Linked DNA regions of Homo sapiens. The protein of the gene in region 4 purifies or fractionates together with the protein of the main gene of each other region. This does not show direct contact. Each region holds a gene or a part of one and is shown on either strand. Other genes may lie near its edges.

Region 1 (4,167 bases), on a different chromosome or scaffold from region 4:
GGAAGTTCCGCCACGGGACCGGGGTGTTGACAGGGACGACCCACTTGTGTGATGAGACCCGCGGGGACTCCCGCCCTGGGGAGGCCCCAATAGGAAGCGGCACGGGTGCGGTGGAGATGCCTGCCAGGGAGCCAGGCGATGAGAAACCTCCAGCCCCCTTTCCCTGACAGCGCCACTTTGTTCCTCGGGCTCACTTGTTATTTGGGACGGCTCTGAGATCTCTCCCTGAGTTGATGAGAAGAGCTGTTCGTAATCCCCGGCATCATCTGAGTGCGGAAGAGAGCCTTCTTTTCTCTCTGCCTGGCAGTCCCTGGAAGGGCTGGAGCAGCTGGAATGGCCAAGCGCCTCCTCTGGCGCCTCCTGCTCAGGGGCCTCTGCTCCCCGTGCCCCTGAGTGCTGGCCCTGGGGTGGCGGGAGAGCGCACTGTCCCATCTTCTCCCAGGTGGTGGCGGCCTCATCTCTTCCTGGCTCCAACGGCTCCATCTCCTCCACCTTGTCCCACTGTTTCTGCACCTGGACACCTGCTAGGAGTTGCCCAGAAACCGGACTGCCACCCTCCAGCCAGTCAGCGTCCTCGCCGGCACCCGCTGCCCTTTCTTCCTGGAGAAGCTTTCGCTGAGTAGCTGCAAATTCATAAATTTCTTCCATTTCTGCTTCATTCACGTTTTCTTGATCTTCTTCGTGGTCCTTGGATTTCAACAAAGTCTCCGCTTCCTCCTCTTCATCTGCCCACATTGACCTCAAGAGTTCCTGGAAATTCTCGGCCCTGCTTTCGCAATTCTCTGCTTCCTTCTCCTCCCATGGTTTGCCCTCTGAGTCAGTGGCAATAGGCACCTGTTCGCACAGGTGAACGAGCTCACTCACGCCAAACCTGCAACACGAAACATCGACAGTCATCGCCCCTCTGCGTGGAGATGGGCTCTGGGTGCCCCGGTGGGGTGGCGGACCAGAGCAGAGTCTTCACCAGGAGGAATGACCATGACCCAGGCCCTGCTTCCCTTTGAAGACGGTGTCCACACTCCTTGCCAGAAACACCCAGGCCACTTAGTTCCAGAAACCGGGGACTGACAACACTTAAAGCAGGGCTTCCTAACTATAGCTGCAGACATAAAGGGGTGTGTCGGACTGAATGTAAGGTAACAGGGATTGGCAGAGCTACAAAACTGGGGAGTCTGTGCTGCCTCAGAGGCTCTTAAGATATGGTGTCAGAGCCAGGCATTGTGGCTCATGCCTGAAATTCCAGCACTTTGGGAAGCCGAGGATCACTCAAGGCCGGGAGTTTGAGATCAGCCTGGACAACATAGAAAGTCTCCATCTCTACAAAAAAATGTAAAAATTAGCCTAGGAGTTCAAGGCTACAGTGAGCTGTGATCATGCCACTGCCATCCAGCCTGGGCAACAGCAAGAGACTCTGTCTCTAAAAGGATAAAAAAGGTCATGCATGGTGGCTCATGCCCATAATCCCAGCACTTTGGGAGGCGGAGGCAGGAGGATTGCTTGAGGTCAGGAGTTCAAGAACAGCCTGGGCAACACAGCGACACTCCGTCTCTCCAAAAAATAAAAAATAAATGAAAAGACATGGCATCAGACACAATCCACAGCACACCAAGTCCTTGAGTCAGCCCAGGCCAACGGGCAAGCCAGCCAGCCACCTGCTTGAAGGCTCTGTGGCCCGTCAGTATATTTCCAACTCCAGAGGCTGAGCTGTTCCTTTCCTAAGAAAGCAGCGGAGGGAGGACGCAGGCTCGGATCAGCGGCCCAGGCCCTGTCCAGAGGCACAACACTTGTCCCTCTGAGCTGCTGCCTCTCTCCTAAGATGCTGGCTGGACAAGCCAGGAGAGCTGTGGCATCTGGGATGCAGCCTAAGCATTCTCTCCATGCCTGTTTTATGGGACTCTGGAAAGGACTGCTGTTGTTCAGGTCTAGTGGTGGAACAATCACTGAGCAGCAGTGTTGGGGGGCGCTGTAGCCAAGGGCCATTCTCTTATCACACCTAGGGGGTTAAAAACCACGGGACTCAATAGAGTCCTCCTGATCCAGTGCTTGGCACCCCTGCAAGGGTCTGTTCTGGCCTGACTTTCACCTAACATGCCCTGTTCCACAGGGTCATCACTGGTCATGGACTTGGGATTAAAAGGTATAAACAGGACTGTTAGTTCTCTTGGCCTCAGCCCCGAGCCCTCTGCAGCACAACCCTCCAGAGCTGTTAACCTGCCAGTCCTCGTCAGTTAATTTCAAAAGCTGGGGAGCAATCCAGACCTGTGGGCCAGGGAGCTCAGCTCAGAGCTAAGGCCAGGAGGAAGGCCAGTGTCCGCAGTGTAGAGATAGTGCAGGAACGTGCGGGCGGCCTCGGTGCTCACGTCACCCAGCAGGACACGCTGGGTCAGAACCCCGTCCTCTACAGCGGAGAAGCCTTCATTGTTCACCTGCAGGTGAAATGCAACACAGAGGGTTTACTGATCAGAGAGTTGTAACTTGGAGCAAAGCAGACGGTCTGGGGTGTCCTGCAAGTCACTAGTCTTTTTATTTTTCTTTTTAGAGACAGTGTCTCCCCTTGTCACCCAGGCTAGAGTACAGTGGTGTGATCATGGCTTACTGCAGCCTTGAACTCCTAGGCTAATTTTAAATTTTAATTAATTTTATTATTTTGAGTTGGAATCTCTCTCTGTTGCCCAGGCTGGAGTGCAGTGGTGAGATCTCGGCTCACTGCAACCTCCACCTCCTCGGTTCCAGCGTATTCTCCTGCCTCAGCCTCCCGAGTAGCTGGGATTGCAGCCGCCCACCACCATGCCCGGCTAATTTTTTATAGTTTCAGTAGAGATAAGGTTTCACTATGTTGGCCAGGCTGGTCTTGGAACTCCTGACCTCAGGTGATCCACCCTCCTCGGCCTCCCAAAGTGCTGGGATTACTGGCGTGAGCCACTGCGCCCAGCCCCTAGGCTAATTTTTAAATTTTTTTGTAGAGATGGGCTCTCACTGTGTTGTTCAGGCTGGTCTTGAACTCCTGGCCTCAAGCGATCCTCCCACCTTAGTCTCCCAAAGTACGGGGATCTCAGGCATGAGCCGCCGTGCCTGGTCCCTAGTCTTAAAAGCAGCTCCATGCCCCAGGAAAAGCATTAGCCACTGTTTATGCAGATTTTTGGCCAATAATTTTACAGGTGAGGCCTAACACTCCTCTTTTGTCAAATCGTATTGGGACTAGATATTCCAGGACCCCGTTAAGAGTCCTCCTGATAGACACATATGGGATCCAGAACTTTGACAAAGACTGAGAATAGCTCCCTGAGTTCCTGCCCACACTCAAGTCAAATGCTTTCAAGTCAGAAGGCAGGTTCATCAGCAACTCATCCCTGAGGAGATCAATTATGAGCCTTTGTAATTATGCAAATAGAGAAAAGAGAAAACAATTCTGGGAAACAATGGATTTTCTTTTTGTTTTGTTTTGTTTTTGAGACAGAGTCTTGCTCTGTCGCCCAGGCTGGAGTGCAGTGGTGCAATCTCAGCTCATTGGAAGCTCCGCCTCCCAGGTTCATGCCATTCTCCTGCCTCAGCCTCCCGAGTAGCTGGGACTACAGGCGCCCGCCACCATGCCCGGCTAATTTTTTTGTATTTTTAGTAGAGACTGGTTTCACTGTGTTAGGATGGTCTTGATCTCCTGACCTTGTGATCTGCCCGCCTCGGCCTCCCAAAGTGCTGGAATTACAGGCGTGAGCCACCGCGCCCGGCCAAACAATGGATTTTCATTCAACAGAACGAAAACACTGATGTTTCCCAGTTGTGAGGCCATCCCCTCACACCCACTCCTAACCTCAAGCGTGGGTCTTTATCTCTTCTCCACGTGTTGCAGAAACGGATGGTTGGGAGGGAGAAGGTGAGAACATGGTGGGGCAGGAAGTGAGGGAGAGTGGGGGGGTGGAAAGGGCACCTGAGACATGGGAAGACCTGGTTGGAGAAAGGCAGGAGGAGAGAGGGAGAGAGAGGAAAGGAGGGCACACGGCAGCCCACGTACTTACATACTGGATGAGGAGCGGGCATCGGGCATAAAGCACGAACTTGTGGGCGTAAAGCACCTCCCCGCTGTCCGTCTGAAACTGGACATCACTCAGGTGTGGGTTATTGACCATGGCGCCAAAGTCAGCAACCAGCAGCCCGAGGGAGAGCTGAAGC
Region 2 (4,167 bases), on a different chromosome or scaffold from region 4:
GAAAATGGTGGGCCAAGAGGGTTCTAATCAGAGAGACACCAGCATTCCAGGAACTTACTACCCTCCCTGTTTCCCATAATACTTATCATCCTACCCACTTAACACCTCTCACATAATAGAGATAAATCCCAGTTAACCAAGGCATAAGCTGCAAGGCAAAAGAAGGAAATACATACCACTTATAGCTTCCTGTGCAAAGTATTTGACATCCATGTCTTCATCTTGACCTAACTTCTGTAGTACTGGCTTCACTTCTCCCTGTAAAGCACTGACATTCAAAAGTATTATCTGTGAAAGACAGTCTAATGGGCCATAGAAATCCTTTTTGGTGTATATGGTTAATGGTAATTGTTAAAATTTAAAGTAAAAAAATAAAGACATTTATAAACTTGACAAATACACAAAATAATGTCTAAAGAAATTCTCAGCAAAATCAGCTTCAGACAAGGATCTACACATTTACAGAGCTTAAATATAAAAGTCATAGTGGACATCCTCAAAAATAGTTGCTAAATTATTTTCTTTAAGCAAACCCAGATCTTAAGTAAAGTGAAAATCCCTGAACTTAATTTTAGCTAATTACTCCCCACTATAAGGTAAAATTTAAAGTACACTTTTAAAACAAGACTAAACACTAAAATCTTACTTGGTATCTAGAATTGGTCCAATCTTTTGTAGAGATTTGGCCACATTGAAGCGAACATTTGCTACTTGGTCTCCTGCCATTTTTAATACGATGGGCAGCATTTGCTTAGTAGTTATTTCCTGACCACAGGCCTCAGACAGTGCCTAGAAAAATAAGTAAGATGGCACATTTAAAATACTTTAAAAAATTCCAAAATCTAATGAAACAAATTAATATTTAATAAGAAAATAATTGACCAATAGGAAAATATTTCTAGTTTGAGCAGCTGAGTGGGGGACACAAGAATCATTCAAATGATCAGAGAATTAGACCAGAATTCACAAATAAGTTGAACTTTTAAAATACTGTAGTTTTGTTCTTTGTTTTTTTTTTTTTCAGGCGGAGTTTTGCCTTGTCGCCCAAGCTGGAGTGTAGTGGCGCGATCTCAGCTCACTGCAACCTCTGCACCCTCTGCCCCCTGCCCAAGGTTCAAGGGAGTCTCCTGCCTCAGCCTCCCAAGTAGCTGGGACTACAGGCATGCACCACCATGCCCGGCTAATTTTTGTATTTTTAGTAGAGACAAGGTCTTGCCATGTTGACCAGGCTAGTCTCAAACTCCTGACCTCAGGTGATCTGCCCGCCTCAGCCTCCCAAAGTGCTGGGATTACAGGCATGAGCCACTGTGCCCAGCCAATACTGTAGATTTTAACATGAATTTTAAAATTGACATTTTCTCTCATCTCCTGTCTATTCCAATTAATCAATACAAGACATATATTCCAAATAGAAGACAGTATACTGATAATTCAGAAATAGTCATGAATAATTTTGCTTTAATGATTAAGCTTAGCAATAACAGTTATGTTATACTTACATTAATGCAGAATAAAGTGGTCATTCTATGCAAGTAATTAGGATCATTTGCCATTACTAACACTTTGGGAACAATAGTATTTTGGGCCCACTCTGTACCAAACTTCTGAACTAGTTTCATGAGGTTGTTGGTGGCAGCTTCTCGGATGGCGTATACTGCAGAAGAGGTCAAAAACATGTTCTCATATCGCTTATTGTTTTTTAAGCATAACCTAGTTTACTTACATGAAAATCAAATGTGGACCAAAAGCAAAACCCCTCTGCAATCAGACTCCACATGTAATCATGCTGCAATGACAAGCATGCTCAGCTCCAACTCAGTTTCCAAGTGTGCATATCCACAGAAAAGGGATGCAAGGAGCTCACCATATGCATCATCAATTATTTAACAAATACAAGTGCCTACTATGTGCTACAAAAAGAACACAGAAGATACTTTCCCTCACAAGAAATATGCTCTTATCAGAGAAATGAAAGCTAACACACTCCATGAAGTCACATGGTGTAAGAGCAATTAGAATGAAGTGTGGCATTGTGTAGTAAAGGCTGTGAGGGTTGTAGCAGTGCAGAGAAGAGTGAACAGGGAAGGTCTAGGAAGGCTTCGGCACAGAAAGAAGCCTTGACTGGGCAGTGAAGATTTGGGAGGATCTGTGTAAGTGGAGAGAAGCGGGGAGGAATTCCTAGAAAGGGTAAAGACATGTATCCAGGACACAAACAGAAAAAACTGAAACCTGTGAGACTTCTAAGTTAGACAATTAGGGTGGACCCAGACTGCAGAGCATTATGAAAGACTTAGATTTGATTAGGAAAAACAGTGATGGGTTTTTAAAGCAAACTTGTGACCTGATGACCAATGTGGAATTTTAGCAAGATTATTCCAGCAACATCACGGAGAAGCGACGTTGACTGAGAAAGACAACAAGGAAATGGTGTAGAGGCCACTGTGGTCATCTATACAACAGCAAATACAAACATCAGACTGACTTGCTTCCTCTCCATGAAAATGCTTAGGTTGAAACAAGATGTCAAATGTCTTTGAATCAATGTGCCTGCCTTAACATCTAATAATTCCCTATATCCTTTGATCATTTATCAAAGACATAAAGCTAGATAATAAAGGTCTCAGCTACAATCCTCTCACAATTAGTTGCTATATACAGCACTGAACAAAAACAAGCCTGGTGTCACTTCACTTTACAGATCCAGTAAGACTCAAAATTTGGGCTCAGATTAACAAATCGAGGGTGGTAGGTACTAATTCCTTATTCTACTTCTCTCCCCAGGTGGGCCCAACCTTCCTGGGATGATAGGAAGGGCAGGAATAGCTATCCAAGCCACAGTCCCAGTCCTAGGCAATTTATACAAGCCTCCAACCAAGAAATAGGCAACTTCTTCTATTCATAGATCCTTCTGGGCAATGATGTTGAGAACAAGCAAGACAGCATAGACAAGTGACCCATACAACTGATTATCAACACTTAAACTGACAGTCTACAGGAGAAGCAACCTTTCGGTAAGACTCAGATGCACTAAGGAGCAAACTCAAGTCAACTGTTTTACTGTAATACAGATTCCTTCCCTTCATATCCATAGTCTTTGTCTTTGGCCCAAACCCTTCCCTGTCCTCCCCACTAAAGAGGAGCTAGCTAGAGTATTTGTGTCTTCTCCTCTAATTTTTTTTTTTTTTTTTTTTTTGAGACAGAGCCTCACTCTGTCTCTCAGGCTGGAGTGCAGTGGCGAGATCTCGGCTCACTGCAACCTCCGCCTCCTGGGTTCAAGCAACTCTCCTGCCTCAGCCTCCTGAGTAGCTGGGATTACAGGCGCCCGCCAACACATCCAGCTAATTTTTGTGTTTTTAGTAGAGACAGGGTTTCACCATGTTGGCCAGGCTGGTCTCGAACTCCTAACTTCAAGTCATCCACCCGCCTCAGCCTCCCAAAGTGCTGGGATTACAGGCATGAGCCACCATGCTCAGCAAATTACTATTTTTTTTAACACGCTTTAGATTTTTATCATAATGCCATTACCATAGGAAGGGATCTCTACTGCCAGAAAAACCAGAGACTGGGGAACACACATGCATAGCCTTGACCAAGACCTTAACTGCACTGAACTCTACTTGGCCAGATGCCTACTATGTTCTTGGTTCCTCTGACTGTTTTCAGAAGAATGCAAACCATTCCAGAGTTCTGCCTGTTTTCTTTTGTCTATTTCTGTCTCTTTCTCTCTCCCCATCTCCTCTCAAGGCCTGGCTGACCTGCAAGGTTTCTTTGAATGTCTATCTATGCTCAATAACTGATACCTTCTCCTTTCTCCTATAATAAATAAATAAATTTCCCTTCTACATTCCTCCCTCTGATCAAAACTGTCTACTCAACCACAGGAATATAGGTGAGTGATACTTTCTTCCTTATACTTCTCTGGAATTTTCACAATGTTCTTTTAGTAGTTACCTAACTAGGGGAAAAGTTTCAAAAACTCTAACTGATCCAGTGATCATTATATAACACTTATCTGAAATGCAAAAGCAAAAAAGCTCCTGTGATTAAGTACAAAACAATTTCAGAGCTGTTATTTCATTGGTTCATGGAACTCTTGCAGTCCCCACTTCAGCATGCTGCTGCAGTGAAATAAACAAGGGTTTCTCCTGCTCCCAAACTGAAAGAGAA
Region 3 (4,305 bases), on a different chromosome or scaffold from region 4:
GTGCGTGCTCACCCGGCCAGTGGTCTGTGTGTGCATGTGTCCGATGTGTCTGTGGTACGCCTCCACATCAGTGCCCACCCAGGGGCATGGGGCCCCCTGCACCTGTGTCCTGTAGCCTGCCTGGCCTTCCTGTGGGCCCCAGCCTTCTTGTCTGAGAAGTGGGTGAAGCGGGAGTGAGGACGGGCTCTGGGCCTTCCCCAGGTCTAGGGGCTGTGGGATGTTCGTCACCGGGTCTCAGACCATGGCCTGACCACAGTCCCATCATCTCATCCTGGGCAGCTCCCTGGACCCAGAGAGCCAAGAAAGGGGAGCCGGTGAAAGGTCATGTGTGGGCCGGGCGTGGTGGCTCGCACCTGTAATCCAGCAATTTGGGAGGCCGAGGCGGGTGGAACTCCTGAGCCTGACCAACATGGAGAAACCCCATCTCTACTAAAAATACAAAATTAGCCGGGAGTGGTGGTGCATGCCTGTAATCCCAGCCACTCAGGAGGCTGAGGCAGGAGAATTGCTTGAACCTGGAAGGCGGAGGTTGCGGTGAGACGAGATCGTGCTATTGCACTCCAGCCTGGGCAACAAGAGCAAAACTCCAACTCAAAAAAAAAAAAAAATAAAAAAAAATAAAAAAAATAAAAGAAAGGTCACGTGTGGAAGCTGTACCCCATCCGGGGCAACACTGCCTCCATCCACTTACCCGGAAAGCCTGACTTCCTCCTGACCCTGGAATGGCTGACATTAAGCCCCAGGAGGAGGACTTGACCTCTGACCCCTACCCTCTCTCTCTGGCCTCAGGTGAGGGAGATTCTGGGCCGCTGCACCTGCCCTGACCAGTTTCCCATGATCAAGGTCTCAGAGGGGAAGTACCGTGTGGGGGACTCGAGCCTGCTCATCTTTGTGCGGGTAAGGGCCTGGGGCCGCCCCAGCGGGCAGCAGCCAAGGTGGTGGGCTGCGGGGCGCCCGGGGCACAGCCGTGACCTGCCCACACCTGCAGGTGCTGAGGAGCCACGTGATGGTGCGAGTGGGTGGTGGCTGGGACACGCTGGAGCATTACCTGGACAAGCACGACCCGTGCCGCTGCTCCTCCACTGGTCAGTGCCAGGGTGGGGCTGGGGCTGGACGGGCAGGGGACTTGCTTCTGTGGCTCTGTCCCTCACATGCTGCCTGTCCTCTCTCCCCGCAGCTCATCGCCCACCCCAGCCGAGGGTCTGCACCTTTTCTCCACAGAGGGTGTCGCCCACCACCAGTCCCCGCCCTGCTAGCCCAGTCCCTGGGAGTGAGCGCCGGGGCTCCCGGCCTGAGATGACTCCCGTTAGCTTACGAAGCACAAAGGAGGGGCCCGAGACCCCACCCAGGTGAGATGCAGGAGGACGAGGAGTGAGGGGTCCAGAGGGTGGGGGGGCGTCAGCCCTGGCCTGCATGATGGGTTGCCTGTGCGCCAGAGTGACTCACACCCTGGGAAAAGTTCCCGTGGGTGGGGGCGGGCCTGGCTTCCCATCTCCATGGCAACCCAACCAAACCAACAACACAGCTGGGGCGGGCCCTGTGGCTGGGCGGCAGCCAGTCCAGCTCTTGCTTCCTCTGGCCCGTCCTGGGAAGGGGGGTGTCTAGAGCCCAGGAAACTTCTTCTTCCGTGGCTTTTGGGGCCCTGGGCCGCTGGAGGAAGCTGCTCACTTCTCCCTGGAAGTCCCCAGGACAGACCGATGCCCCTGACAGCCCCGTCCACCAGCCACATACCCTGCTGTTCCTCTCCCTGCCTGTTCTGCATGCCAGTCCTTCCGTGGTACCCCATCTGTCTCTATTGTCCCCCTGCCCCAGGCCCCGGGATCAGCTGCCCCCCCATCCCCGCTCCCGCCGCTACTCCGGGGACAGTGACTCCTCAGCCTCCTCCGCCCAGAGCGGCCCCCTTGGTACCCGCAGTGATGACACAGGCACTGGCCCCCGGAGGGAGCGACCCAGCCGGCGGCTGACCACAGGCACCCCGGCCTCTCCGAGACGGCCTCCTGCCCTGCGCAGCCAGTCCCGAGACCGGCTGGATCGCGGCCGGCCCCGGGGGGCCCCAGGAGGCAGGGGAGCCCAGCTGTCGGTCCCCAGCCCTGCCCGGCGGGCCCGGAGCCAGAGCCGCGAGGAGCAGGCTGTGCTGCTTGTGCGCAGGGATCGAGACGGGCAGCACTCATGGGTGCCAAGGGGCAGGGGCAGTGGGGGCTCGGGCAGGAGCACCCCCCAGACTCCCCGTGCCCGCAGCCCTGCAGCACCCCGGCTTTCCCGGGTCTCCAGCCCCAGTCCAGAGTTGGGCACCACACCGGCCAGCATCTTCCGCACACCCCTGCAGCTCGACCCGCAGCAGGAGCAGCAGCTGTTCCGGCGCCTGGAAGAGGAGTTCCTGGCCAATGCCCGGGCCCTTGAGGCTGTTGCTAGCGTGACCCCCACTGGACCAGCCCCTGACCCAGCTCGGGCCCCCGACCCTCCAGCTCCTGACTCTGCCTATTGTTCCTCCAGTTCCTCCTCTTCGTCCCTCAGCGTCCTGGGTGGCAAATGTGGCCAACCTGGGGACTCTGGCCGGACGGCCAATGGGCTGCCTGGGCCCCGAAGCCAAGCCCTTTCCAGCTCCTCCGATGAAGGCAGCCCCTGCCCTGGCATGGGGGGGCCACTAGATGCACCTGGGAGCCCCCTGGCTTGCACTGAACCCTCGAGGACCTGGGCACGGGGTCGGATGGACACACAGCCAGACCGTAAACCCTCACGTATCCCCACGCCTCGGGGCCCCCGCCGCCCCTCCGGACCCGCAGAGCTGGGGACATGGCATGCCCTGCACTCAGTCACCCCGAGGGCTGAGCCAGATTCCTGGATGTGATGGACCAGCTCAGCTGTCCCCAGACCCCATCCCTTCTCCTTTTCCTTTGTGGCCTTAACCCTTCTGCATCAGGGAGCCCCCTCTGCCTCTTGAGTACCAGACCTCATGGGACCAGACCCCTTGGGACCACATGGCACAATGGGACCTCTGTTGTACATTCCGGTTGGGGGATGAGCGTTGCTATTTAATTACTAATATTATTGAATGCCTTAGAGGAGGCCGGGCGAGCCCGGTGTTCTGAAGACCTGTGGCCCAGCAGAGCCTCTGACAGTAAAGTTTTGCTCCAGCCACCTGTCTGTTTCTTGGGGACTCCACCTTGGGGCCATTCAGACCCTTTCGAGGACCCTGGAGTTAACTGCCTGGAGGCCAAGCCTGGCAACTCTGACCTCTAGGCTTAAGGCGTTATCCCGCCCAGCCCAGAAATCCCAGGCGCACTCAAATTATTTTCCCTTTTATTATCCCGTGGTAGGTGTGGCATAAAGAATATGTCCAGTGAAGCTCCAGGAGCAGGCTGCGTGTTTCCAGTCAAGTTCATAGCCAAGTCCTTTCCATCCAATGGGATTGTGACCCATTGAGGTCCCAGAAAGGACTGGTCATCTCCAATGGAGCTTGGGACCTGGTTGGGTCCAATGAGGTTCAAAAGGGGGCCAGTCGCTTAGGAGACTGGGTTGGAGCTTTCCTCATCCAATCAGGGCGGAGACTTCCCTGTCCAGTCCCAGTGAAGTTGGGCGATCCCGTCCAATCCAGGTCCCTGATTGTCCCAGTCACAAGGTGGGGCCCATGGATGGCACTGTCCGATCGGGTCACATGAGGCTGCAGCGCGCGGGATGCAGCGCCCCCTGCAGGCGCAGGGCCGGGTGTGCAGGGCGCGCGCGCACCAGAGCGCAGCGCAGCAGCTCGCGGAAGAGACGCAGCACGTGCCAGTTGTACTTGGCGGAGCACTCGAGGTAGCCGCAGCGCCAGCCCCTGCGCACTAGGGCGGCCAGCGCGCGCCGCGGTCCGAAGCGCAGCCGCTGCCTGTCCCGCTTGTTGCCTACCACGAGGATGGGCGCTTCGGGCGCGCCCGCCGGCCTGGGGGCCGAATGGAGATGAGAGACGCGGGGACCCCACGGCCGGAGAATTCCCCCAGTGGGTATACACACGCAGGCGCATTCCCTTCCTACGGCCAGAGACACCGCCCCCCCCGCCGCCCCAACGAAACCCCAGGCCCATGTGGGCCAAAGAGCACATACAGCTTAAGACCTTCCCACGGGCGAAGGCCTAAGACCCGGCCCACGACGTTGGGAGACCCTACACACTCTCCTCAGGCAAAGGCCCTGCCAGACCTGTCCTAGCTCCCCACCGCCAGAACTGCCGGGCCCCTACCTGGTCTCCGCGATGCGCTGCCGCAGGGCCTTCACGTAGTCGAAACTGTCCGGGCTGCAGATGTCGTAGACGAGCACGAAGGCGTCCGTGTC
Region 4 (4,167 bases):
TGCCTCCCGGGTTCAAGACATTCTCCTGCCTCAGCCTCCCGAGTAGCTGGGACTACAGGCCATGTCATCTCCCACATTGTCTCCTTGCTTTCTCTGCTCCACCCACTTTGGTCACTTTGCCATTCTTTTAGTGAATCACGCATGCTCCACTCTAGGGCCTTTGTACTTGCGGTTATTCTACCCTGGAGGATTTACCTCATAATACCTCCTTGGCCTCCTTCCTCTAGTCTTTCAGGTCTCTGCTTTTCAGATGTCAGTGAGGTCTTCTCTGACAACCCTTCATAAAACAGCACCCTCCCAGCATTTCTAAACCCTTGCCCTGCATCATTTTTCTCCCCAACACATGCCACCATATGATAAGTTTATATGTTTAACTTGTATGTTGGGTTTTTTCCCCTTGTTTTATTTCCTGCTCTATCCCTAGTGTATACAAAGAACCTGGTACACACAGTAGGTAGTCAGTATTTGTTGACGGAATAAATACATTGACAGAACCTTCTTGGAAAGCAACTACAGTATATTTTAAAAGCTGTTCTTTAAAAAGAATGATTAAGTAAATTCTGTCCACTTGATGCAGAGAGAGAGATATCCACATGGAGCAGGGTCTGGGAGATGGGATCAAGATCAGTAATGAAACTTGTGTTTTCTTTCAGTAAGCAAAAAGAAGATGATGGGAGAATAATTTCTAGGAGTAGAGGAAGTTTGAGACTCAAGAACAGGTACTAGGTGTTGGTAGTCTTTGAGAAGACTAGGTTGATGGAAGCAAAAGGTTGGTGCAGGGACATAGTAGAAAATATGATTATAGATGGATTGGAACAGGTGTTGAGGGACTTAAAAGTGAGTCAAAAGAGGTAGACTTGCTGTGATCCATGAGGAAATCAGAAGTGTGAATTTTTAAGCTGTGAGGGATGAAAATGCCGTGTAAATCTAAGCTTCTTAATATCATATAAGGTGGCAAGGAGCATGCAATAAGAAATTCATCTCAGAGGCAGATGTGACAAGGCAGAGTTGAGGTAATATTACTCTAGGCAATAAGGAGTATAAGGTGTGATGAAACAAAGGCATGAGTTGAATATCAGCTGTAAGGGATATTGCAGATAATAAAGCGTGGTGGTTAACTGCAAATGGGATGCAAAGAAAGAGGAAATCAAAAGTTCCAGCATTAAAAAAATTTCCTTTTAATTTTTTTTTTTATTACAGGTTTCTCTGTCATTCACAGAAAAATGAATCATTTAAACCTTTGGAGGACTCAGTTATCACAATACTTCTCTACTACCAACTAAGATTTATGATAGTAAATTTATGAGAGCAAATTTCCATGTTATAGAACTGTTGAAGAACTAAAAGAGGATATTCTTTCATCAAAATAATTCTGCAGTATCATAATATTACTAAATAAAATTAAAAAGCACAATTATTAAATTATTAAATTTGCCACACATGTGCAGCAGCTACTGTATCCTGATAGTGACCAAACCTCAAATATAAATGGTTTCCCTTCATGGGAAAAGCCATTATATTTGGAAGAAACCACTGAACATTGTTATTAAATATATTTTCAGCTAACTGTCATTTAGGAGAATTTTCATGAAACAAGTTCTAGAAAGTTCCAAGTCCCACCAGTAAGTGGATTTGATATTATGGCAGCAACTTACAGACTTGTGGTTAGTACTGTGAACCACTACAGCAGCGTGGTGATAGACCGGCGTTTTGAACAAGCTATACATTATTGCACTGGAACCTGCCACACCTTCACACATGGAATTGACTGCATTGTGGTACACCATAGTGTTTGTGCAGACCTCTTGCACATCCCTGTGTCTCAGTTCAAAGATGCAGATCTGAACTCTATGTTTCTACCCCATGAAAATGGGCTTTCTTCGGCTGAAGGAGACTATCCCCAACAGGCCTTCACAGGCATACCCAGGGTCAAGAGAGGATCTACATTTCAGAATACCTACAACTTAAAGGATATTGCAGGAGAAGCAATCAGTTTTGCCAGTGGGAAAATAAAAGAATTTTCCTTTGAAAAACTCAAAAACTCTAACCATGCAGCTTACAGAAAGGGAAGGAAAGTTAAGTCTGACTCATTTAATAGGAGGTCAGTTGATTTGGACTTGCTTTGTGGCCATTATAACAACGATGGGAACGCCCCATCCTTTGGTTTACTGCGGAGTTCCTCAGTTGAGGAAAAACCTTTGTCTCATAGAAACTCACTGGATACGAACCTGACTTCCATGTTTCTTCAAAACTTTTCTGAAGAAGACTTGGTTACTCAGATTTTGGAAAAACATAAAATAGATAATTTTTCTTCTGGGACAGACATAAAGATGTGCTTGGACATCTTATTGAAATGCTCCGAGGATTTAAAAAAATGCACAGACATCATAAAACAATGCATAAAGAAAAAATCAGGGAGTAGCATCAGTGAAGGAAGTGGTAATGATACAATTTCTAGCTCTGAAACTGTCTATATGAATGTAATGACCAGGTTAGCATCCTATCTGAAAAAGTTACCATTTGAATTCATGCAGTCTGGGAATAATGAGGCTCTAGATTTAACAGAACTGATCAGTAATATGCCTAGCTTACAACTGACTCCCTTCTCCCCAGTGTTTGGCACTGAACAACCCCCTAAATATGAAGATGTTGTCCAGCTCTCAGCTTCTGACTCTGGACGATTTCAAACTATTGAATTGCAAAATGACAAGCCTAATTCTAGGAAGATGGACACTGTACAATCCATTCCAAACAACTCCACAAATTCCTTATATAACTTAGAGGTAAATGATCCTAGAACTCTAAAAGCTGTCCAGGTCCAATCACAGTCATTAACCATGAATCCTTTAGAAAATGTTTCTTCTGACGACTTAATGGAAACTCTTTATATTGAAGAAGAGTCAGATGGAAAGAAAGCATTAGATAAAGGACAAAAGACAGAGAATGGACCTAGTCATGAGTTATTAAAGGTAAATGAACATAGAGCAGAATTTCCAGAACATGCTACTCATCTTAAAAAATGCCCCACCCCAATGCAAAATGAAATTGGTAAGATATTTGAGAAATCATTTGTTAATCTACCTAAGGAAGACTGTAAATCAAAAGTTTCTAAATTTGAAGAGGGAGACCAGAGAGATTTTACAAATTCCAGTAGCCAGGAAGAGATAGATAAATTGTTAATGGATTTGGAATCTTTTTCACAGAAGATGGAGACCTCTCTAAGAGAGCCACTTGCGAAGGGTAAAAACTCTAATTTTTTAAATAGTCACAGTCAGTTGACCGGTCAGACCCTTGTAGATCTTGAGCCTAAATCTAAAGTCTCTTCACCCATAGAAAAAGTCTCACCTTCCTGTCTAACAAGGATTATTGAAACCAATGGACACAAAATAGAGGAAGAGGATCGAGCCCTCTTACTGCGAATCCTGGAAAGCATTGAAGACTTTGCTCAAGAACTAGTTGAATGCAAATCAAGCAGAGGGAGCCTATCACAAGAAAAGGAAATGATGCAAATTCTACAGGAAACCTTGACAACTTCCTCCCAGGCCAATTTATCAGTCTGTAGAAGTCCTGTTGGTGATAAAGCCAAAGATACTACTTCAGCAGTTTTGATTCAGCAGACTCCAGAGGTGATCAAGGTAAGACCCAACAATTTTGAGTCCTAGGAACTCTTTAAAAAATGTTTAGTGTTTGAAAATTTTATAAAGAAAAACTTTTTTGTTAGCCATTTTTTGTTCTACTAAAGCTCTGCCCTACACTAGGAATGATCTCACTCAGCTCAGAGTCAGTAAAAAGCAAAGATTATACAAGATGATAGAGGAAAAAAAAAAAGCAAAGACTTTAGACTCAGACTGGTTCCTACTGCCCTCCCCATACCCTTCATCTTCTTCCCAGCTCTGTGACCAAAGAAAAATTACTTACCTTTAATATCCTCATCTTTATGGTGGAAATAATAAGGATCAAAATAACTTGTGTGAAACATAAGCAAGGTTCCTTACACAAAGTAGGCATTTAATATTAGTCGTCACCCTCCCCAGCCAACCAAGAGACCAGTTGTTACTGCATGCCTGTGTAGACCTGTGTAAGGTTAGTGTAGAGTACAAAAGGAGAGAAGACATGATTCTTTAAGAGCTTAAAATCCACTTGTAGAGACAAAACTGACAATGTCTG
Region 5 (4,167 bases), about 90 Mb from region 4:
AGCCGTGGCACAAACTATGATGGAAAATGTGTCTTCCTGGTTTTACTCAAACTTGCATGTTTTGTTTTATTCTCTTTTTTAAAACCACAAACTCTTGGAGACTGCTAGCTTCAACTTTTTTTCTTTGCACGAGGTTTAGTGGTAGTTGTATCTTTCTGTTGAGTAATGATTAGTTGTCTCATAAGAGAGCTAACTAGAAAGACAGCCTATTCGCAGAGAATCGGAGGGGTTTTTCTTTTTCAGTTTTTAACTTTGGATAATTGACCCCCGTGTTCCCCATAGCCTGAGTCCTGCTGGGGTAGCAGCTCTGCCTAGTGGAGGGCAGGGACAGGGAAGGCCCTGGGAGAGGAAGACAGCTGGCTTACTGCTGTCAGTCTACGCTTATTCTCCGTGAACGAGCAAGTGTCCCAAGGTCCTTTGAGGGACCAGGGTCTGAGGCACTGGGCTGCTGGATGTGTGCAGCTTATGGTAGCATTGTGTTTTGCTTCTCATGAGAACCTTGTGGGAGCCAGTTCTCACCCCATACTCAGCAGGCTGAGGTCAGGGTAGCTGTTTATGGCTTACTTTTTTTAAATTTATTTTTATTTATTTATTTGTTTATTTATTTATTTATTTTGAGACAAGGTCTTGCCTTGTTGCCCAGGCTGGAGTGCAGTGCACCCTAGACCTCCCGGACTCAAGGCATCTTCCTACCTCAGCCTCCTGAGTAGCTAGGACTACTTAAGAGGAAGCAGGGGAGGAAGGGGACGTGGAGGTGGGGGGTCCTCTCTAGGTTGCCCAGGCTGTTCTTCTGGGCTCAAGTGATCTTCCTGCCTCAGCCTCCCAAAGTGCTGGGATTACAGGTGTGAGCCACTGTGCCCGGCCTACTGGTTTATTTTTTAAAGCACATGGCACCATCTTACTGTGAACTATCTTTTCTCCTCAGCACATTCCCACATTTGGGAGTAATAGTTAGCTGGAAATACTGTGGGTCTTTTAATTTAAACTTTTGTTTAGTTGTAAATTTCAAGCTCATTGGACAACACAAACAGCAGTTTTATCTTGAGATGCAAGTTTATGCTGTGCATCAGAGCAACGGTATTAGCTGACGCTACTCATCCATTCAGCATATATTAAAATTTATTGAGCACCTATCTTGAGGCCATGCTCTATTCCAGGTCTTGGGGATACATAGTGAACAGGACAGACAGGAACCTCTGCCTCCCTGGAGCAGACAATGTAGTAGAAGGAGGCAGGGAGTGAATGAAGTAAATAAGCAAGTACTAGGGAGAGAATCAAGGTAGAGAAAGGGAATGGAGCCCTGGGGCTGGGGGTGGCAGAGAGATTTCCAGTTTTAAATTGGGTGATCAGGGAATGTCCCACCTAGAAGATGCATTTGAGCAAAGGCAGGCAGGAGACTGGACCATGTGTTTTCCCAGGGAAATGGTGTTCTTGGCAGAGCAGACAGCAAGCACAGAGTCCCTGTAGGCCTGGTCTGTGCTGGGCACTGTACTGAACACTTGATGCTGACTATTGAATTGACTGGTCACAGCATCCTTGGAAGCTGGTTCTGCCATTATGCCCATTTTACTGATGAGAAAACGGAAGCTCAGGGAGATTAAATTACTTACTGGCGGTGTCACAGGTCATATTGGGTACTGCTGGGACTTGAACCTGACAGTTCAGTTCAGCCTCAGGGCCCATGTGTCTAACCAGCATTGCCAAACAGTCTCCCAAGCAGAGATTTGGAAGCCTATTTTATTTATTTATTTTTATGGTTTTTTTTTAATTGAGATGAAATTCACATAATGTAAAATTAACCATTTTGAAGTGAACAATTCAGTGGTGTTTAATATTAATACATTCACAACGTTGTACAATGAACACCTCCGTCCAGTTCCAAAATGTTTTCGTCAACCCAAAAGGAAACCCCATACCCATAAAGCAATTGCTCCCTGTTTCCCCCATCCCCTCCCAGCTCCTGGCAACAACCAATGTGCATTCTGTCCCTATGGCATTTACCTATTCTGGAATTTCATTTAGAAACGGAATCGTGTATTTTATTCATTTTTTGTATAAACTTCACAGATAAGCAAGCACGCACAGTGAAAATCGAGCCTCTTTCCCTGGTCTGTCTAGTCAAGTGTTCTGGGTGTAATAAGCATGTGTGTGTTTCTGCCAGCCCCAGTGGTGGCATGCTGTTCCACTGCACAGCGTCTTGGCAGTGGCTCTACATCAGCATGTGTTCAGCTGGCTATACGTGGCTGCTGTGCAATGTGCCTAGGTCACCTAAGGTCACCTAAGCAGCCCTCACTGATGGGCCTTTGGAATGTACCCACCTACAAGGGGCAGGCGTAGCTGCAAGATGAGCTCCCAGGAGTGGGACTGTGGGGCTGCGTGGTTTGTGTCCTTTAGGTGTGGCTTGGTTGCTTCCTGCAGAGCTCATGCCAGGGCTGAGCTGCCAGCTATGTAGGAGAGGGTTTGCTCCACACCTGCTTTGGTGGCAGAGCTTCCATCTGCTCTTCTGCGACCTACCTTGGGGCAGAGGAGGAAGTCTTTCGGTCTGAAGATTGGCAGTCATTGCCTGGCCCTGTGTGGGGACCATGAAGAGACCACATGCTCCTCCAGACCACTCCTCCCTTGTCGGTAGCCTGAGGAGGCTGGACAGCTGAGGGGCTCCCTCCCACAGATACTTTTTCCTCCCCTACATCTGGTATTACTTGAAAGATTTTGTCTACCCAACACGCTACATTTGTTAAATAATGGTTAGATTCTACTTCCAAACAGAAGAATGTTTAATGGTGCAGGGCGCTTGGCAGTGAGAGTCAGAGTGACACAACTCCCCATGAGAGGTGATGTCACTCAGGCCAAAAGCAAAGCAAAGTAGATGTTTGGGTTAGCTTGGGCCCCTTCCTAGGTTGAACTGAAGGTGTCCCTTTGGGCATTTGACTTTGTGGGAAGAGCTTGTGAATCCCTGTTGCCACCTTTGTAAGCCCTTAGAGTCTCAAGATGCCCAGTTTCCAGTTACTGATTAACTTGGCACGGGAACTCTCCTGGCACTTTCCATGGCTGGTCTTTGTGGGTTTAGTAAAATAGGATCCTACAGAGGCGTGTCTCTTTCCCTACTCTGCTGGGCCTACTTCCTCCTCCAGCCATCCTCCCCACCCCCTGTCCCCGTTGCCTCTTTGTGTCTCTCTGTCCATGTTGTTGGGTTTTTGGTCTTCTAGGCGTTGCTCCTGGCCTACACCACCTAGTGCAGTGTGGCTTCTGTTTTAGCACCACTGCTGACACTGCAGAGGTGGGGTGCAGAGGGCACCGTGCCTTTGTTAGTTGTGCCCCACCGTCTCCTCCATGTGATCCACCTATCTTCCTCACACTGGTCCTCTTCTCCCTTTCTAAGGAAAAAGGACACAAGCCGGGTGTGGTGGCTCACACCTGTGATCCCAGCGACTCAAGAGACTGAGGCAGGAGAATTGCTTGAGCCCAGGAGTTTAAGACCAGCCTGGGCAACATAGTGAGACCCCATCTCTACAAAAAACACAAAAATTAGCCAGGCATGGTGGTGCACACCTGTAGTCCCAGCTACTTGGGAGGCTGAGGTGGGAAGATTGCTTGAGCCCAGGAGGCTGAGGCTGCAGTGAGATATGATCATGCCACTGCACTCCAGCCTGGGTGACAGAGGGAGACCCTGTCTCAAAACAAAAACAAAAACAAAAAACCCCACAAATAAACCACTTGTCATAGGCTGGGTTTCCTGGGAAGCTGACTGAGACAGAGTTGACCATACAAGGGCTTATTAAAAGGTGCTTTTGGGGTCCCCACCTGTGGAAGATGGAGAAGGAATCAGGAGTGGGTAGAGGAGAGCTGAGCTGCTGGGACCTGACCCCGCAGGGAGCCTGGGAGCTGGAAAAGTCCTTTAGGGTCATCCTAGTTGGCCTGACATGGCCTGGCCTTCACACTCCCTCATGGATCAGCTGTTGGCTGTGGGCTGCCCAGGAAGATGGTGACTTTGGGCGAGGCAGCTCTGTGCAGCTGGGATAGTCTCTTCAGGGGCTGACAGGAGGGCAACCTGCCTGCCGCACCCCAGCAGCTGTGCCCTCCCCTGTCCTCGCCTTCATCGAAGGGCCTTTGCAGCATCCCCACAGTGCCCCCTTCCTGGGGGCAGGTAGGAGCGGGTGACTTGGGCAT

Evidence for each region.
Region 1: the proteins of PPP2R3A (region 4) and SLX4 purify together in Homo sapiens (co-immunoprecipitation; one large-scale study listed by IntAct). This does not show direct contact.
Region 2: the proteins of PPP2R3A (region 4) and PPP2R1B purify together in Homo sapiens (affinity purification with mass spectrometry; 2 studies listed by BioGRID and IntAct, with this or other methods). This does not show direct contact.
Region 3: the proteins of PPP2R3A (region 4) and GAS2L1 purify together in Homo sapiens (co-immunoprecipitation; one large-scale study listed by IntAct). This does not show direct contact.
Region 5: the proteins of PPP2R3A (region 4) and LIMD1 purify together in Homo sapiens (co-immunoprecipitation; 3 studies listed by BioGRID and IntAct, with this or other methods). This does not show direct contact.

Annotation. Positions count from the first base shown.
Region 1 is NC_000016.10:3,590,440-3,594,606, forward strand, and holds part of SLX4 (structure-specific endonuclease subunit SLX4), read right to left. Parts: intron 4,161-4,167; coding exon 4,014-4,160; intron 2,427-4,013; coding exon 2,260-2,426; intron 872-2,259; coding exon 1-871. UniProt on the Homo sapiens protein: Regulatory subunit that interacts with and increases the activity of different structure-specific endonucleases.
Region 2 is NC_000011.10:111,741,877-111,746,043, forward strand, and holds part of PPP2R1B (serine/threonine-protein phosphatase 2A 65 kDa regulatory subunit A beta isoform), read right to left. Parts: intron 1,655-4,167; coding exon 1,500-1,654; intron 790-1,499; coding exon 647-789; intron 269-646; coding exon 177-268; intron 1-176. UniProt on the Homo sapiens protein: The PR65 subunit of protein phosphatase 2A serves as a scaffolding molecule to coordinate the assembly of the catalytic subunit and a variable regulatory B subunit.
Region 3 is NC_000022.11:29,309,650-29,313,954, forward strand, and holds the end of GAS2L1 (GAS2-like protein 1), read left to right. Parts: intron 1-789; coding exon 790-897; intron 898-988; coding exon 989-1,085; intron 1,086-1,177; coding exon 1,178-1,349; intron 1,350-1,812; coding exon 1,813-2,848; 3' UTR 2,849-3,138; downstream 3,139-4,305. Other genes in the region: RASL10A (ras-like protein family member 10A), read right to left, coding at 3,652-3,919, 4,214-4,305. UniProt on the Homo sapiens protein: Involved in the cross-linking of microtubules and microfilaments. Regulates microtubule dynamics and stability by interacting with microtubule plus-end tracking proteins, such as MAPRE1, to regulate microtubule growth along actin stress fibers.
Region 4 is NC_000003.12:135,999,859-136,004,025, forward strand, and holds part of PPP2R3A (serine/threonine-protein phosphatase 2A regulatory subunit B'' subunit alpha), read left to right. Parts: intron 1-1,200; 5' UTR 1,201-1,640; coding exon 1,641-3,635; intron 3,636-4,167. UniProt on the Homo sapiens protein: The B regulatory subunit might modulate substrate selectivity and catalytic activity, and might also direct the localization of the catalytic enzyme to a particular subcellular compartment.
Region 5 is NC_000003.12:45,597,390-45,601,556, forward strand, and holds part of LIMD1 (LIM domain-containing protein 1), read left to right. Parts: intron 1-4,167. UniProt on the Homo sapiens protein: Adapter or scaffold protein which participates in the assembly of numerous protein complexes and is involved in several cellular processes such as cell fate determination, cytoskeletal organization, repression of gene transcription, cell-cell adhesion, cell differentiation, proliferation and migration.